2 separate regions of the Homo sapiens genome follow, and region 2 is linked to region 1. The links come from fine-mapping of genetic effects on gene expression. A gene starts in region 1. The other region holds a variant in brackets. All regions are shown on one strand. Distances are between the middles of the regions.

What was found. PIP is the estimated chance that this variant, and not a neighbour inherited with it, causes the effect.
Region 2: its variant is the best candidate, but not a certain one, in a credible set for the expression of ZNF627 in whole blood (INTERVAL, PIP 0.65).

The regions. Positions count from the first base shown.
Region 1 is chr19:11,591,681-11,601,629 of GRCh38, reverse strand. ZNF627 (zinc finger protein 627) reads right to left here and starts at 4,147. Exons shown (of 4, transcript NM_145295.4): 1 at 4,000-4,147. The coding sequence starts at 4,002. RefSeq lists silencers at 1,707-1,786, 3,753-3,892, 4,233-4,362 and enhancers at 4,043-4,122, 3,210-4,208.
Region 2 is chr19:11,619,549-11,629,497 of GRCh38, reverse strand. It overlaps the pseudogene VN2R12P. Among named protein-coding and RNA genes, the nearest start is that of ZNF627, 27 kb to the right of the region's middle. RefSeq lists an enhancer at 5,360-5,860. The variant G/A (reference allele first, on the strand shown) is at 4,755.

The DNA.
Region 1 (9,949 bases):
ACCCCCATAATCCTGGAATTTGGGGAGGCTACGGTGGGAGGATTGCTCGAGGCCAGGAGTTAGAGACCAGTCTGGGCAACATAACAACGTCCTGTCTCTCTTAAAAAAACTTTTTTAAAAATATAAGCCAGGCATCATGGCACATGCCTTTAGTCCTAGGTACTTGGGAGGCTGATGTGAGAGAATTCCTTGAGCCCAGGAGATCAAGGCTACAGTGAGCTATGATCGCACCACTGCACTCCAGCCTAGGAGACAGAGTGAGACCCTGTCACACACAAAAAAAATAAATAAATAAAAATAAAATAAATCACTCCTTACCTAAATCCAGATTTGTTTCATTAGAAACGTCTACAAACAGACCCAAGATAATAGCAAGTACATTCTCAGAAAGGCATCACCTCAACCACCTCTGCCTATGAATCCCCAGCTTTCCAGGGCTCTGAGCTTCTCTCACTATAAAGGGCTCCACCCAAAGTCAGTTGTGAGCAGCTGGGACACTGCAGGGGAGGCTCCTCAGCAAGAACCACTGGGCCTGTAATGTCCTCTCTTTGAAGGCTCAAGATTGGTCTTAGTTTCAAGTCACTAGTCTGCTGTCTCTGTTTCCCAGTCAAGGTTATGCATTTAATTTTCAATGAGAAAATACCCAGGGTTTGAAGATTCCAGTAAAATCACTCAAATTCACTGTTTATAGCAAGGAAGGAAATTGTAAGGCACTTATATTTCATACCTTAACAGGAAAAGTAAAAGTATCCATCCTCTTCAGACAATAAACATGTTATTTATTCTTTCTATGGTAACAAATCATGTACTAAATCATATTGGAACACTTCTAGGAGTTACCAAGTCCTGTCCTACTAGGACTTCGCATTAAACTCTGATGTCTAGATAACAGGAAGAGAACAGTTATCCACTGTCACAAGTTTGCCACCCTGCAAAGCAGAGGAATTGATGTTTTGGTGAATCTCTGTAATTCACCAATTTATTTGCTACACTTACTTGTGGAAATGTATTCATTTTCTGCAGTCATGATAGAAGAGAGTTTTCTCTCTCTCTTTTCCTTAGTATTCCCAACACTAAGCCCTGGAATTCCATTTTAAATCACCACACCCCACCCCCACAAAAAAAAACAACATACTTGAGAAACTTACTACACTTGCTTTGGGAAAGAAAAAAATAATAATTTTTTTTTTGAGATGGAGTCTTGCTCTGTTGCCCAGGCTGCAGTGCAGTGGCGCAATCATGGATCACTGCAAGCTCCGCCTCCCAGGTTCATGCCATTCTCCTGCCTCAGCCTCCCAAGTAGCTGGCACTACAGGCACCCGCCACCATGCCCAGCTAATTTTTTGTGTTTTTAGTAGAGACAGGGTTTCACTGTGTTAGCCAGGATGGTCTCGATCTCCTGACCTCGTGATCTGCCTGCCTCAGCCTCCCAAAGTGCTGGGATTACATGCGTGAGCCATCGCGCCCAGCCATAAGTAATAATTTTTAACAAACATAAGACTAGATATTTAATGTTTTCTGAAATCCACTTCCTTCTTGCCTCTTTGCAAAACTGTCTTATATTTCAAGGTCTACTGATGAAATACATTTATAGTTACTTAAAAAAGAAAAAAACTGAAACTGCAATAAGTGAACAAATCTTTTGCAGGGGACAAACCCAGGAAGGGGCTGCGCTAACCTGGAACAGAGGTACGTCTGACTCAAGTTTCACATCTTTTTTTTTGAGACAGAGTCTCGCTCTGTCACCCAGGCTGGGGTGCAGTGGTGTGATCTCGGTTCACTGCAACCTTTGCCTCCCACGTTAAAGCGATTCTCATGCCTCAGCCTCCCCAGTAGCTGAGATTAGAGGCACCTGCCACCACACCCAGCTAATTTTTGTATTTTTTAGTAGAGACAGGGTTTCGCCATGTTGGCCGGGCTGGTCTCGAACTCATGGCCTCAAGTGATCCGCCCACCTCAGCTTCCCAAAGTGCTGGGATTACAGGTGTGAGCCACCGCGCCCGGCCTAAGTCAGGTCATTCTATCACCTGGGATATCGTCCACCCCCTAACCTGCTCACTGAAGGGCTCAGTGACCACCCTTCCAAGAGACACTGCATTTTGCCTCCATCTGCCTGAAGTACATTTTGCTTTTCAAGTTCTTGCATCACCTCAGTGGGATGGGTTTTCCTGTCCTTGGGATAAGTTTTCTCACTTCACCAGTCTAAAAGAATCCAGAGGGCAAGAATCATATCTGTTTTTCCCCTCAATACCATCATCCATTTGGCTGGACACCAATGTGTCCCCCAAGGAATGGGATCTGGAATTAGGGGAAGAAAAGCTGAGTGTCCCAGGGGTGAGCTTTGAGAGGGAGGGGATATCAAGAGATTCCTCCGACCCCAGGACACCCAGCTCCTCCACTAAGAGGCCCCACCCCGTACTTCAGGCTGTCCAGTGGGAGCAGGCTGATACCAGACCCTTCAACAGATCTGGCTGCTGTGGGCATCCTGTGTCAGCCCAAACAGCCCTGAAGCCCAGGACCAGGAAAGGAGGATGCTCTGAAGACATATCACAGTTTAAAGTTTCCAAAGGGGAACCCCAACCCAAAGACACTGTTTTTTGTTTTTTTTATTTTAGGGTCCGGGTCTCACTATGTTGCTCAGGCTGGTCTCAAACTCCTGGCCTCAGGTGATCCTCCCGCCTTGGCCTCCCAAAGTGTTGGGATTACAGACATGAGCCATGGCACCAGGCCAACCAAAAGACATTCTGAGAACATCCCTGTGCCTAGGAGAGAGAAAAGGAGAAGAGGCACAAAGGTTTTTTCACAGCAGGGTCTCATACATGTATTCTCTGCTTTCCTCTCCTGTGAAATGTTCAGAAACAGAAAGCAAATATTTTTAAAAGACCAATCGATTGCTCCTTGAAAAAATAATACAAATTAATTAGTTTGAAATGTGCAATAAAGGACAAAGAGTTGATAATGTCGTGACTGGAGTTACCTTTTGGGAATATGGTGAAAGAAGTGGTATCAAGAATTATTTGCAAGCGCCAGAGGAGTCAGGCTAGGGGAACAAGGTCAAGGATTTGGGACCCTGTCCCCCTGGGGAGTGTTAAAATAATTAATTTGGAGACAATTAGAGGGCTGTGGCTATGGTGTCCTGGTTTCCTACCCAAGGAAACAGAAATCTAAGTCGAATGAAATTCTTTTATTTGATTTTATATTTTAAAAATTTGTAGTAGTTTTTTGGTCTCAGTCTGAATATGTTCATTTAAAAAAAATTAACAGAGATGGGGTCTCGCTATATTGCGAGGCTGATCTTCAACTCCTGGGCCCAAGCGATCCTCCTGTCTTGGCCTCCAAAAGCGCTGCGATTACAGGCGTGAGCCACCGCGCTCCAGCCTCAAATGAAATTCTTATAAATTACCAGTTTATAAGGAAATAAAATTTAGGGTTAATAAACCACAACCACCAATCCACCTCTGACTACATAAGCAGAAAATGTCCACCTAGATAGAGCAAATAAGGCGACTGCATAACTGTCACCAACCAAGTACTGAATTTGGTTCGCTTCCTCCTGCACCTTACAGCCTTTCCTTCCATTCCCTCCAACGGATCCCCAAGCCACAAACCACGACCGGGAGCTTCTCCATCGATGAGCCGCTGTTTGCTCAAATAAACTCTAAATTTTTAACGGGAGAAAGGCGGGACTGTGGGGGGCGGCCACAGACCGCAGCTCCTGCAACACGAACCACATCCGAGGAGGGATACCCCCATGACCCTCCCGCGGCCCCCGCACCATGTGGGGAGACGCGGGGCTGCGGGGCCGCAGGCGTCGCGCAGGGACGGGACAGGACGACCGGGGTCCCAGCTCCTGGCCCAGCCCCACCTTGCGGCCGAGGGAACTCGGGTCCCAGACCCCGGAGTCGCCGCAGGGAGGCCTAGGTCCCTCCACAGCCGGTTCCGGCCGGTTCCAACCAGCCCCTCCCCCAGGTCTGGGGACGCCTGACCCCTCACACGCACCATTTCTCGGCTTCCAGGTGTCCCGGCGTCCTCCCTACGACTCCCGCGACCTGTACAGGTCACGGCGCGACAGAGGCTGCGGCGGAGACACCTTGGGCCTCTCGGAGAAACGGAGACGCGAGCCCGGGTGGGGACGGTCGCCAGAAACAAAGGCTCCGTAGGGAGGCGCAGGCCCTGCCCTCCTCTCCCGGGCCCATCTGAATGGACAGTTGGCAGGGCCCCGCCCCAGCGCCCCTGATTGGATAGGGTGACATACCCCGCCCCCTAAGGCCTGAGTGACGTAGGAAGCCATGGAAACGTGGCTGTGCGTAGCAGTGTTGACTGGTTCTAGCCACTGCGCCTCTCAGGCCGAGTTTCCTCCCTGCACCCAGCCCGAGGGATATTTGAGGGTTTGTTTTGGTTTTTTTTTTTTTTTTTTTTTGAGACGGAGTTTCGCTTTTGTCGCCCAGGCTGGAGTGCAGTGGCGCGATCTCAGCTCACTGCAATCTCTGCCTCCCGGGTTCAAGCGATTCTCGTGCCTCAGCCTCCCGAGTAGCTGAATTACAGGCACCCGCCACCACGCCTGGCTAATTTTTGTATTTTTCGTAGAGACGGGGTTTCGCCATGTTACCGAGGCTGGTCTCTAACTCCTGACCTCAAGTGATACGCCCACCTCAGCCTCCCAAAGTGCTGGGATTACAGGCGTGAGCCACCACGCGTGGCCTTGTTTTGGTTTCCTTCCTTCCTTCCTTCCTTCCTTCCTTCCTTCCTTCCTTCCTTCCATCCTCCCTCCCTCCCTCCTTTCTTTTTTTTCTTTCAGGGTCTTGCTCTGTCACCCAGGCTGGACTGCAGTGGCATGATCTCGGCTCACTCCAGCCCCAATCTCCCGGGCTCAAACGATCCTCCTGCCTCAGCCTCCCTAGTAGCTGGGACCAAAGTCACGCCCCACCACACTCTGCTAATTTTATTTTGTTGTTGGTGCTGTGTGTGTGACGGGGGTGGGGTGGGTTAGATGGGGTCTCACTATGTTGACCAGGCTGGTCGTGAATTCCTGGGCTCAAGTGATCCTCCTGCCTAGGCCTCCCCAGGTGCTGGGATTACAAATGTGAGCCACCGTGCCCGGCCAATATTTGCATTTAATGCAGAGCTTGCTTCTAGCTTGCCAGAGTAGGCACTGTCTTCTTCTGGCACTCCATGAGCTCTTCCTTCTAATTCCTTCCGGACACAAGGTCACCAGTATGTGCAGGGAACTCCACACTCACTGTGACATGGAGCAATCGCCTTGCCTCAGAACGGGAGGGAGCCCAGGCTAGGCCAGGGAGGACAGGAAGAGGAGGAAGGGCCTGATGTTCCGGGAAACGGGCATTTGGGATGAGGCGTGCCAAGGCTTCCTCCCATACCCTCCGGTCCCTGAAAAAACATCTATACGTGGAAAAAAAAGTAGAAATAACTGAGGTGAGAGGAAGGATGCTCTCTGATGAAGTGATGTGGGATGAGACCCAAAGTAATGTATTAGTATTAAAAGGCAGGTTGGGCTGGGTGCGATGGAGCACGCCTGTAATCTAGCACTTTGGGAGGCCGAGGCAGGCGGATCACCTGAGGTCGGGAGTTCGGAACATGGAGAAACCCCATCTCTACTAAAAATACAAAATTAGGCCAGGCGCCGTGGCTCATGCCTGTAATCCCAGCACTTTGGGAGGCCGAGGCGGGCAGATCACGAGGTCTGGAGATCGAGACCATCCTGGCTAACACGGTGAAACCCCATCTCTACTAAAAATACAAAAAATTAGCCGGGCGTGGCAGTGGGCGCCTGTAGTCCCAGCTACTCGGGAGGCTGAGGCAGGAGAATGGCGTGAACCTGGGAGGCGGAACTTGTAGTGAGCCGAGATGGCGCCACTGCGCTCCAGACTGGGAGAGAGAGCGAGATTCCGTCTCAAAAATAAATAAATAAATAAAATAAAATAAATAAATAAATAAAAATACAAAATTAGCCGGGCCTGGTGGCACATGCCTGTAATCCCAGCTACTCGGGAGGCTGAGGCAGGAGAATCGCTTGAATCGGGGAGGTGGAGGTTGCGGTGAGCCAAGATCACACCATTGCACTTTAGCCTGGTCAACAAGAGAGAAACTGTCTCAAAAAAAAAGGCAGGTTAAGCTGGGCACAGTGGCTCATGCCTGTAATCCCAGCACTTTGGGAGGCTGAGGCAGGAGGATAACGAGGTCAGGAGTTTGAGACCAGCCTGGCCAATATAGTGAAACCCCGTCTCTACTAAAAATACAAAAAATTATTGAACCTGGGAGGTGGAGGTTGCAGTGAGCTGAGATCGTGCCACTGCACATCAGCCTGGGCGACAGAGCAAGACTTTGCCTGAAAAAAAAAAAAAAGGCAGGTTGGAGGATTCAGGGAAGATGGCAGAATAAAAATCATAAAGAATCTATGGCCAGGCATGGTGGCTCATGCCTGTAATCCCAGCAGTTTAGGAGGTCAAGGCAGGAGGATCAGTTGAGCCCGGGAGTTTGAAACCAGCCTGGGCAACATAGTGAGACCAACCCCTAACCCCATTTAAAAAATATGAAAATTAGCCAGGGGCTGAGCACAGTGGCTCATGCCTCCAATCCTAGCACTTTGGGAGGCCAAGACGGGAGGATTGCTTGAGCCTAGCAGTTTGAAACCAGTCTGGGCCACATAGTAAACCCTCCCACCCCATCTCTACAAAAAAATACAAAAATTGGCCGGGTGCAGTGACTCATGCCTGTAATCCCAGCACTTTGGGAGGCCGAGGCAGGCGGATCAGGAGGTCAGGAGATTGAGACCATCCTGGCTAACACGGTGAAGCCCCGTCTCTACTAAAACTACAAAAAATTAGCCAGGCGTGGTGGGGGATATAAAGAGCTGATGCCTTTTATTTTTTTCCCTTTGTCAACCTAAAATAATCGAAAGGCTCAAGATCCAGTTAAAATAGTTTATTCAAGGCCAGGCACAGTGGCTCATATCTATAATCCCAGCATTTTGGGAGGTCAAGGCTGGAGGACGGCTTGAGCACAGGAGTTTGAGACCCGCCTGGACCATATAGTGAGACCCTGTCTCTCAAAAAAATATATTGTTTTTAATAAGCTGGGCATGATAGGGTGCACCTGTAGTCCCAGCTACTCGGGGGGCTAGGACGGGAGGATCACTTGATCTCAGGAAATCGAGGTTGCAGTAAGCTATGATGGCACCACTGCACTCCAGCCTAGATGACAGAGACCTTGTCTCAAAAAAAAAAAAAAAAAAGAGTTTATTCAAACACAGAGTACAAGGGTGGCCATCAGGGACATGCTGACACCGAAGAATAGTGATCAATGATCCCAGTGTGGGGAAAAGTGAAAATTGTCTATATAGGCAAAAACAGAGGTGCTGAACAGAAATACATTTCCATACAGATGTTAATATACAGACATAAGATTTGAGGCTGGGTGCCGTGGATCACACCTGTAATCCCAACACTTTGGAAGACCTAGGTAGGTGGATCACCTGACGTCAGGGGTTCAAGACCAACCTGGCCAACATAGTGAAAATCTGTCTCTATTAAAAATACAAAAAGTAGCTGGGCATAGTGACACATGCCTGTAATCCCAGCTACTCAGGAGGCTGAGGCACGAGAATGGCTTGAATCCAGGAAGTAGATGTTGCAGTGAGCCAAGATCATGCCACTGCACTCCAGCCTGGGTGACAGAGCAAGACTCTGTCTCAAAATAAAAAAAAAAATTAAAATAAAAAAAAAAACAGATGTGATTGACTACTGTTGATTACACTCTATGGGGGTTGCTTAACATTCTATTGTAAAGCGGTAACAGTCGCAAGGGTATACATATCCTACATCATTTAGTATAGGTTTGAATGAAGAACAAGGAGTCTGATGGCTACAGTCTCAAAACAAAGGTAAGGAAGCATCAGTCATGCATCAGAGAAGCTGTATTATAAGACTCAGTTTCTAGGACTTAAGTGCTTAATTTTCCCCTTCGCATAATGAATTTGGAAGGTATTGATTTTTTTCTTTTTTTTTTTTTTTTTTAAGACAAGGTCTTGCTCTGTCACCCAGGATAGCGTGCAGTGGTGCTATTATAGCTCACTGCAGCATCGATCTCCTGGGATCAAGCAATCCCCCCACCTCAGCCTCCCGAGTAACTGGGACCACAGGCAAGTGCCACCATACGCGGATAATATTTTTTTAGGTTTAGTAGAGACAATGTCTCGCTATGTTGCCCAGGCTGGTCTAGGACTCCTGAACTCAAGCGATTTTCGCACCTCAGCCCCTCAAAGTGCTGGGATTATAGGCAAGAGCTACCTCGCTCAGCCGAAATTTTATTTTCTTTTTGCACTTTTGTTATTTTATTTTTCTCTTGGGACCCAGACATTGACAATTAGGTCATTCAAAGGCAGCCACAGAGGAAATTACAGTTACCACAGAGGCCCAGAAAAAAAGAATTAAGAAAAGACCGGCCAGGCACGGTGCCTCATGCTTATAATCCCAGCACTTTGGGAGGCCGAGGTGTGTGGATCATTTGAGGTCAGGAGTTCAAGACCAGCCTGGCCAATATGGTGAAACCCCATCTCTACTAAAAATACTAAAATTAGCCGCATGTGGTGGAGCATGCCTGTAATCCCAGCTACTCAGGAGGCTGAGGCAGGAGAATTGCTTGATCCTGGGAGACGGAGGTTGCAGTGAGCTGAGATCGCACCACTGCACTCCAGCCTGGGTGACAGAGCGAGACTCTGTCTCAAAAAGAAAAAAAGAAAGCCGGGGATGGTGGCTCATGCCTGTAATCCCAGCACTTTGGGAGGCCGAGGCAGGCAGGTCACCTGAGGTTGGGAGTTCCGGACCAGCCTGACCAACATGGAGAAACCCTGTCTCTACTAAAAATACAAAATTAGCTGTGCATGGTGGTACATGCCTGTAATCCCAGCTACTTGGGAGGCTGAGGCAGGAGAATCGCTCGAACTCGGGAGGTGGAGGTTGCAGTGAGCTGAGATCACGCCACTGCACTCCAGCCTGGGCAACAAGAGCGAGATGCTTTCTCAAGAAAAGTAATAAAAATAATTATATTTCTATGATATTGGGCACTCAATATATAAAGATGTGATTTGTGACATTAACAACATAAAAGAGCCGGGGGCGGTGGCTCACGCCAGTAATCCTAGCACTTTGGGAGTCCAGGCAAGAGGATCGCTTGAGCTCAGGAGTTCAAGACCAGCCTGGGCAACATAGTGAGACCTTATCTCTATGGAAAAATTAACAAATTAGCCAGTCATGGTGGTGGGCACCTATGGTCCTAACTACTTGGGAGGCTGAGGTGGAAGGATTGTTTGAGCCCGGAAGGTCCAGGCTACAGTAAGCCGTGATCACGCCACTGCACTCCAGATTAGGTCACAGAGTGAGATCCTACCTCAAATAAATAAGTAAATAAAAATTTTAAAAAATAACATAAAAGAAGAGGAAACTATAAAAATAGAGTATCTGGGCCAGGCGTGGTGGCTCACGCCTGTAATTCCAGCACTTTGGGAGGCCGAGGTAGGCGGATTGCCTGAGGTCGGGAGTTTGAGACCAGCCTGACCAACATGGAGAAACCCTGTCTCTACTAAAAATACAAAATTAGCCAGGCGTAATGGCGCACACCTGTAATCCCAGCTACTCAGGAGGCTGAGGCAGGAGAATCGCTTGAACCCAGGAGGCAGAGGTTGCGGTGAGCCGAGATCACACCACTGCACTCCAGCCTGAGCAACAAGAGCGAAACTCCGTCTCAAAAAAAAAAAAAAAAAAAAAGAAAAGAAAAAAGGAAATAGAGTATGTTTATACCATAACCAGGCATAATGGCACATGCATGTAGTCTCAGCTACTTGGGAGGCTGAAACAGGAGGATTACTTGAGCCCAGGAGTTCAAATCTAAGCTTGGGCAACATAGCAAGACTAGTTCTCAATTAATAGAATAG
Region 2 (9,949 bases), 28 kb before region 1:
TTACCGGTGTGAGCCACTGCGCCCAGCCTAAGTTACTTTTTGTGTGGATAGCTGTTCAATTTGGTGTTCTTGTTGGGGGAACAATCACTGGAGGGTTCTATTTGGCCATCTTGCTCCTCCTGCTTCTGTATCACTTTTGACCATGGTTTTACCTATATGGTAGGTAAAAGATCCAGCCAGGTGTGATGGCTCACGCCTGTAATCCCAGCACTTTGGGAGGCTGAGGCGGGAGGATCACCTGAGGTCAGGAGTTCGAGACCAGCCTCAATATGGAGAAACCCCGTCTCTACTAAAAATACAAAATTAGCCGGGCATGGTGGTGCATGCCTGTAATCCCAGCTACTCGGGAGGCTGAGGCAGGAAAATTGCTTGAACCCAGGAGGCAGAGACTGCAGTCAGCCAAGATCACGCCATTGTACTCCAACCTGGGCAACAAGAGTGAAACTCTGTCTCAAAAAAAAAAAAAAAAAAAAGAAAGAAACTCAGGGAGACAGACAGTAAGTGAAAGGAAAGAATAAAATAACCTCTGCTCACATTTGAAATTATTAAGTTCTTTTCAATAAAATTTCATGCTGTAGTAAATGAACTGGATGTAATTTTTTGGTACAGGAATGAATTCACAAATTTTTCCTTGAAAATAAAAATGTTTTCAACCTAAGGTCATTTATCCTAAAAATTGTTCTTTTTGACTTTGCTTTATTAAAAACTGCAAATATAAAACATCTCAGGTGTGGTTACTCATGCCTGTAATCCTAGCACTATGGGGGGCCTAGATGGGATGATCGCTTAATGCCAGGAGTTCCAGACCGGCCTGGTCAACATACTAAGGCTCCATCTCTATTTTTTTTTTTTTAACGTATATCTAAAAAGGCAATTTTCACATCTCAAGAACGGAAGCACTTCTGAGGCTGGGCACAGTGGCTCATACCTGTAATCCCAGCACTTTGGGAGGCCACAGCAGGCGGATCACATGGGGTCTGGAATTTGAGACCAGCCTGGCCAACATGGTGAAACCTCATCTCTACCAAAAATTCAAAAATTAGTCAGGAGTGGTGGCACACGCCTATAATTCCAGCTACTCAGGAGACTGAGGCACGAGAATCGCTTGAATCTGGTAGGCGGAGGTTGCAGTGAGCCGAAATCACGCCACTGCACTCCAGCCTGGGTGACAGAGCGAGACTGTTAAAAAAAAAAAAGCCGGGCGCGGTGGCTCAAGCATGTAAGTAATCCCAGCACTTTGGGAGGCCGAGGGGGGCAGATCACGAGGTCTGGAGATCGAGACCATCCTGGCTAACACGGTGAAACCCCGTCTCTACTAAAAATACAAAAAATTAGCCGGGCGTGGTGGCGGGCGCCTGTAGTCCCAGCTACTCGGGATGCTGAGGCAGGAGAATGGCGTGAACCCGGGAGGCGGAGCTTGCAGTAAGCGGATATCGCGTCACTGCACTCCAGCCTGGGCGACAGAGCAAGACTCCGTCTCAAAAAAAAAAAAAAAAAGAAAAGAAAAGAAAAAAAAGGCTGGGCGCGGTGGCTCATGCCTGTAATCCCAGCGCTTTGGGAAGCTGAGGCGAGCGGATCACGAGGTCAAGAGATGGAGATCATCCTGGCCAACACGGTGAAACCCGTCTCTACTAAAACTACAAAAATTAGCTGCGCCTGGTGGCGCATGCCTGTAATCCCAGCTACTTGAGAGGCTGTGGCAGGAGAATCGTTTGAACCCAGGAGGCGGAGGTTGCAGTGAGCTGAGATCACACCACTGCACTCCAGCCTGGGCAACAAGAGCGAAACTCCGTCTCAAAAAAAAAATAAAATAAAATAAATTGAAGCATTTCTCATAACCAGAATACCATAGTCACACCTACTAATTTCCTAATATTAGCTGACAGCATGACACTGGAATCTCATAAATTATATAAACAATTTAAAAAATATTTTGTAGAGACACAGTCTGACTATATTGCCCGGCTGGTCTTGAAGTCTTGGCCTCAAGGGATTCTGCTGCCTTGGCCTTCCATTGCATATGGAAACGCAAAGTGGAAATGTTATCCATTTAACATAAAAGACAACATAACCTTAAAAATATGTGTGACATTCCCTATCCATAGCTCTGTCTGCAGCCAGAATGAAGAATGAGTCCTAGATTGCCAAAATAACTTTTAATTCTAAATTGTTGAAACTTACAAACTGCAGCGTTGCTTTTCTTTTTTCTTTTCTTTTCTTTCTTTCTTTCTTTTTTTTTTTTTTTTTTTTTTTTTTTTTTGGAGACAGAATTTCGCTTTTGCCCAGGCTGGAGTGCAATGGCGTGATCACAGCTCACCGCAACCTCCACCTCCAGAGTTCAAGCGATTCTCCTGTCTCAGCCTCCCAAGTAGCGGGGATTACAGGTATGCGCAACCACACCTGGCTAATTTTGTATTTTTAGTAGAGGCGGGGTTTCTCCATGATGGTCAGTGCAGGGAGCCAAAGGCCGCTGGGACACGACAAACTCAGCATTCCGCAGGAGTCTATATGATCAAACAGCAAACTGTTTATCATGAATGCAGGTTGTGGGCAAACTCACACTGCCCTGCCACCAAAAGGTTTGCTGAGGGACATCACTCCCTGGCACCGGGCTCCTTGAAGTTATCTACTGAGAAAATTAGTGCCTATTGTCCAAAGGATGCAGTCTCACAAGCCTGCTGTGAACCAAACAGAACCAAACGGCCAACTGACAATTACCCGACAATCACTCCCTCTTTTCTCACTATCCCTTTGGCCTAATAAATACGGAGGACTGTGTAAAGCTCGGGGCCCTTGTCCACTAGAGGCAAGGTGCTGCCCCCATCCCTTCTTCCAAATATACTCTTTTGTCTCTTGTCTTTTATTCCCACGTTCGCCCCCCTTTGTTCAGTCCCCCTAGGTCCGTGCAGGTTACACAGTGGCACCCCAAACAGCGACAGGATCGGAAGCTCTATAAGTGGCACTCGAACAGGCGGCAGTCCAAACACGGGACTATGAGGACGTGAACGAAGAAGGTCTGCTGGAGTAGAGGAACTGAAATTGACAAGACGCACGGGGACTCCGGGATGAGTCTGCCGATAGCGTATGTAAGGTCAGTGCCCTAAAGAAGTACTGGGGGCAGTGCTTTAAAGAAGTACTGGGAAGGGGAAGTTTTCTGAATCAGGTTAACAAGGGGAAGAATTTGTCTACTGAAGAAAAACATTATGTGCACTTGCTTAAGTTTCTGTTGAGACAGTCTGGAGCTCAGGTTAATTCGCAGGCACTAACTAACCTCCTGCAGAAGCCACAAATGGTTATTCACGCATCACCCATGGTTTCCACAGGCAGGCACTCTTGATGCGGAAAATTGGGACAGAGCAGGAGAAGGATTAAAACAGGCTCATCAAAAAGGTTTTAAAGTTGATTCTTCAGTTTTCTCCACTTGGAGTTTAGTTCATACTGTACTTCTGCCATTAGCTCCTTATTATTCTGCGGGACAGCAGGCTGAGTCTAAAAATCTGAAAGAATCTGTTGTCCCACCCACAGCGCCAACTGAAAATAAAAAACAGGTGAGGGAGGATAAAAATTGGCCTATACCGCCTCCTCCAATCGCAGAAACATCTGTACTGCCTCCTTCAGTAGCAGAAATAGAGACCCCAAAACAAACAACTTTATGCTCTGCTGCCATAGCTGGAGAGCCCTTAGGACCTTGCACTTTTCCTATTTCCGTAAGGCCCGATTCAAATAATCCACAGCAGTTTATTCATGAACACACCCCACTAGAATTTAAGTTGTTGAAGGAATTAAAAACTAGTGTGGTCAATAATGGAGTACATAAGCCCATGGTTCCCGGAAGAAGGAACGCTAGGCTTAGAACTCTGGGAATGAGTGGGGAGAAATCTTGAACAACATCAGGTGCAAAGGCATCAGGTCCCAGTAAAATCTTTAACGTTATGGGCTTTAATTAGAGCAGTCCTGGCTCAGTTTACACACAGAAGAGCCTAAAAAGAGGAAGGAGGAGAAAACGTCACCTGCCTTATCACCTTCTCTTCCCTCAGCCCCAATATCACTGGGCCAAAAATAACAAAGAGGAAACAGAGGTCTTACCTAAGCCTCCTCCTCCAATAGATAGGAAAAAGGACAGAGGATACGCTACAGCTATCAGTCCCTGTCTTGAGCAGGCAGCATTAGAAGGAGAGCTCTTAACCTGCTCAGTAATGCAAAATCGGCAAGGCAAGCAGGTGTATGTCTGTAAAAAGATAAGAAAGGCCGGGCGAGGTGGCTCATGCCTGTAATCCCAGCACTTTGGGAGGCTGAGGCGGGCAGATCACCTGAGGTGGGCAGATCACCTGAGGTCGGGAGTTCGAAACCAGCCTGAGCAACATGGAGAAACCCTGTCTCTACTAAAAATACAAAATTAGCCGGGCGTGGTGGCAAGTGCCTGTAATCCCAGCTACTCGGGAGGCTGAGGCAGGAGAATCGCTTGAACTTGGAAGGCGGAGGTTGCGGTGAGCCGAGATCGCGCCATTGCACTCCAGCCTGGGCAACAAGAGCAAAAACTCCGTCTCAAAAAAAAAGAAAGAAAAAAGGCATTAGAAGCCGAAACCGCGCGACCAAGCAAGCGGTGGGCGGAATAGAAGGTTCAGCAGCAGAAAAGCTGGCAGCGACCAAGCCCACAAGGTCCGCCCAGGCTGGCAGCATGCCCCACCCCCGGCAAAGGAGGGAGGGAGCGGCGCAGACACAGGCAAAACCTGAGCAAGTACAATGCGGCCGCC[G/A]CCAAGGACCTGCACCGCAGCCCTCTGGCTCTGTGAGCAGCCCATAGCAAAAGTTCATGTGTTACGTACGTCCCAGACTATGATTCTCTGCTAAGATTTAAGTAAAATGTAAGAATTTGAAAAACCTCTTTTCTAATAATGGCCACTGTTATCTCTCTCCTACCCCTAAGGTAGCTTTCCAAATTCAATTTAAGTAAAACAGTAACCTCTGAAGGGAAAGAGATTACAGAGGGCCCACGAATTCATTAATGAGTAATTAAAAGCTAGGCATGTAAAACCACACATTACCCTTTAAAGGAGAACTTTAAACCTAATTAAATGATATTTGTCAAATTAGAAGGTAAAAATGTTGTGTCCTTCTCAGAAAGTGAAGAAAAGTTGTAAGTGTAGTGAAAACTTATGCATGAATGACTGTCTTACCCACTGATTACAGATAGTGTGATTTGTACTTGCTAAAAGAGTCCTAAATTGAGTTCCCCAGCCAGTGAGTCACTGTTTTCAAGACTGTTTGCCAGATTAAAGTCCATAAACTTGGTCAGCCCAAAAACTCAATTACAAGATTTAAGCTATTCCGCCCGTGGTTTTAAGCACATGGTTAAAGTATATCATTTAAGTCTCTGCTTCTAGAGACGCGTTCAGATTTTCTTTTTAAACTTATTACTATTTCAGCTAGCAATCTTAATGATTAATGCAGTCCAAATGCTAAGTTATGACCCTCATATCATCAGGATTCGTTTAAGTAAAAGGCAATTCGAAGCGGTATTTCACTCCCCCATACCTAAGGCTTTAACACGGTTTACTGATGGGTCTGGTAAACATGGAAAAGCAGCAGGCTAGTAGAGACCACATAATTCAATCACTCGATCTGAGTTTACTAGCACTCAGAGAGCTAAGGTTACTCTGTTTATTTATTTATTTATTTATTTTTGAGACGGAGGCTCGCTCTGTCGCTCAGTCTGGAGTGCAGTGGTGCGATCTCCACTCACTGCAAGCTCCGCCTCCCGGGTTCACGCCATTCTCCTGCCTCAGCCTCCCGAGTAGCTGGGACTACAGGCACCTGCCACCGCGCCCGGCTAATTTTTTGTATTTTTAGTAGAGACGGGGTTTCGCTGTGTTAGCCAGGATGGTCTGGATCTCCTGACCTCGTGATCCGCTCGCCTCGGCCTCCCAAAGTGCTGGGATTACAGGCGTGGGCCACCGCGCCCGTCCTATCAGGTTACTCTGTTTATTTATTAAAGAACTTTTACAACTTTAAGCTTGCTCTGGACTTTGCAGCCTTATGTTGCAAATATAGCCATCAATTTATGGGGTCGAGACTTACAGCATGGGATAGGAGACTTACAAATGAAAACTTTGATAATCCAGGATTTAAAATGTTGAAGAACATGGGATATCAGAGTGAAAAAGGTTTAGGGAAATTTCTACAATGAAATCCTAACCCGATATCAGTAACTGGAAAAACAGATAGAAAAGGGCTAGGACACAAGGATTTCTGACGGGGGGGTCATTGATATTTGATATTTCTCCTTTGCCCACTGCCTTACCATTAGAATGGCTCAGTGACAAACCTGTGTGGGTGGATCAATGGCCCCTATCACAAAAGAAGCTAGATGAACTTCATCTGTTGGTAAAAGAGCAATTGAACACAGGACATATAGAAAAGTCAGTTAGCAGGCCGGGCGCGGTGGCTCACGCCTGTAATCCCAGCACTTTGGGAGGCCCAAGCGGGAGGATCACGAGGTCAGGAGATCGAGACCATCCTGGCTAACACAGTGAAACCCCGTCTCCACTAAAAATACAAAAAAAATAGCTGGGCATGGTTGCAGGCGCCTGTAGTCCCAGCTACTTGGGAGGCTGAGGCAGGAGAATGGCATGAACCCGGGAGACAGAGCTTTACTCCAGCGTGGGCGACAGAGCGAGACTGTCTCAAAAAAAAAAAGAAAAGTCAGTTAGCCCCTGGAATTCTCCAGTATTTGTGATTCCAAAAAGGTCCCAAAACAATAACGACCTCTGGGGTTTCAGCTCAACATTCAGAGCTAACTGCAGTCATTCAGGTTTTACAGCTCACAGCTTCAGATCCTATCAACATTGTCTGTGATTCAGCTTATGTTGTAAATGTAGCCAGTCGCGTAGAAACTGCTACAGTTAAAAGTACACTAGACCCAGAACTGCTTAATTTATTTCACTTATTCTCAAATGCTGCATGCTACATGCCAAACAGGTGAGACAGCTGGTCATGTATGGTGACATCATCTGTCATCATTTGCTCATATGGGAATACCTAAACAATTAAAAACTAACAATGGACCCACTTATACTGGCCATGCTTTTCAAAATTTCTTACAGCTTTGGGCTATAACCCATAAAATAGAAATTCCTTATAATCCTAGAGGACAAGGCATTATAGAGCAGGCACATCAAACATTACAACACATGTTGAAAAAACAAAAAGGGGGTATAGGAGGCCACTTACCACCTCAATCAGAACTTTTTATTATTTTTATTTACTTTAAATTTTTTTGGCTCCTGGTCCGGATGGTAAGACTCCAGCAGAAAGACATTGACAAGTGTTAGAGGAAAAGAGGAAAGTTTATCTGAAAGTGTTATGGAAATCCCTGGAAGAAGGACAATGGAAAAGTCCGGTGGATTTACTGACATGGGGAAGAGAGCATGCTTGTGTTTCTACAGGAGATGGGCACACCGTTTGGGTGCCCTCAAGGTGTGTGCGACCATGAACGGGAGACGGGAGGAACCCAGGGTGGCCAACCATGGGCCCGGTCCCTCCAGTACGAGCCATGAGCCAGCTGAGCCTGGGTGCAAAGAGAGAGAGAAGGCCTAACAGAGTCACAACACAGTTCTAATGCTATGTTTTCTGTAAAATCAGATGGACCGCCAATCGGACAATGAGAGCTGCTCAGCCTGGCCTTACATTCTTTCAATTAATACATAAACAAAAAGGGGGATATGCAGGGAGCCGAAGGCCCGTGGGACGTGACCAACTCAGCATTCCGCAGGAGTCTATATGGGATCAAACAGCAAACTGTTTATCATGAATGCAGGATGTGGGCAAACTCACTGCCCTGCCACCAAAAGGTTTGCTGAGGGACATCACTCCCTGGCACTGGGCTCCTTGAAGTTATCTACTGAGAAAATTAGTGCCTATTGTCCAAAGGATGCAGTCTCACAAGCCTGGTGTGAACCAAATGGCCAACTGACAATTACCCAACAATCACCCCCCGCTTTTCTCGCTCTTTTGTCTAATAAATACAGAGGGCTGTGTAAAGCTCGGGGCCCTTGTCCACTAGAGGCAAGGTGCCCCCCAACCCCTTCTTCCAAATATACTCTTTTGTCTCTTGTCTTTTATTCCTGTGTTTGCTCCCGTTTGTTCAGTCCAATAGGTCCAAGGCGGGTCAGGCTGGTCTCGGACTCCTGACCTCAGGTGATCTGCCCACCTCAGCCTCCCAAAGTGCTGGGATTAGAGGCGTGAGCCACTGCGCCCAGCCGGCATTGCTTTTCTAATCAGATGAAGAACAGTGTATGCTGTCAACAGAGCATCAGGACTCAAACAGAAAGCCACATCACTGCCTTCCAAAAGTGGTGGCCCTCTGGTTTATGAACACTCTTTGGGCCTGTGCTACAATGTCCTCTCTGGGGTGTTTGTGAAGCATCAAGATACTCCCACAGTCAAGGCCAATAATCAGGCTCAGCTGTGTCCTGTTCATCTCCCTCACCCTGTGCTTCCAGTGTCCCCTACCTTCACTGGTCATCCCCACACAGCACCTGCATCCCAACACAGCACCTGCATCCCGGGCAAAATCACATTTGGAGTCGTGTTGATGGTGGGGTTTCTACTCTGTGGCCCACACTATCACTGTGGGTGTTGCCTTCAAGGGAGAAGGACTCAGTGGTTGGATTCAGTAGCACCTAACTCTGTATTGCCCTCTCTAATCCAAATGACTGTAGAATCTGACAGGCAATGACTCCACCCTTCACTCATGTGAATACATTATCTGGGGCTGAATATGTCATCTCCACATACAGTCATGGTTTGGTTGCTGATTGCTACTCTATCCTGTGATACCTGGGCTTTTGACACTGAGAAGTTTCAACAGGGATTTTCTCAACAAGAGCTTGCTGGACACCTTCAACGAAGTGATTGGATTGTTCCGTGGAAGTGTACAGACAAAAAGCTGACTTTTGCATGTTGCTTTTTACTCTGTAGTGCTGGCATAAGAGGCCTATTGATAAATTAGAAGCAAAAGCATATATGCCAGGAACAGTGGTTCATACCTGTAATCCATTCCAGCACTTTAGGAGGCCGATGCGGCCAGATCACCTGAAGTCAGGAGTTTGAGATCAGCCTGGCCAACATGGTGAAACCCTGTCTGTACTAAAAATACGAAACAAAAATTAGCCGGGTGTGATGGTGGGCACCTGTAATCCCAACTACTCAGGAGGCTGAGGCAGGACAATCACTTGAACCGGGAAGCAGAGGTTGCAGTGAGTTGAGATTGCACCACTGCACTCCAGCCTGGGTGATAAGAGTGAAACTCTTGTCTAAAAAAACAAAAACACAAAAACAAAAACAAAAGCATATTATTGGAGCAAGAAAGGCTTGGTTGGAATATTGATGCTGACTTTGTTCCCTTCCTAGGCTTGCATTCAGAAAATGTGCATAAATATATTAGTCTCATTAGACTCGTAAAGGAGCTTTTTAAAAGTATTATACAGCTTGCTAAGAAGTAAATTTACATATTTTAACTGAGGTACATAATGGAAAACAGTGTCCAGTACATCACAGGAAATACTTCAGTGTTCAGAGAATAAGTAAGGCAAAAACAGGTCCACAAGTCCAGGAGCCAGCCTCCGCTCACTGCAAGGCCAAGTCTTACGCTGTTGGAGAGAAACATGTCAGACACCAGCAATGTGAGACCATGCTCCTAGGTGGCTATGATGAATCAAGACAAAAAAAGGGCATTCTGTAACCATGTCTTTAAAACTGGTGAAAGACAGCATGTTCCAAATCATAAACATGACCCAAATTCCCCTCTTCTCACTAATATGACTGAGTGGTATTTCTCATGAATTACGTTTACCTCCACTCCATTCCTTTTCCCTTCTGGATAAGAACAGTTATGATTACCAAGTTTAGAATTAAGTTTACCTCATCACTGCATCAAATACAGAGAATCATC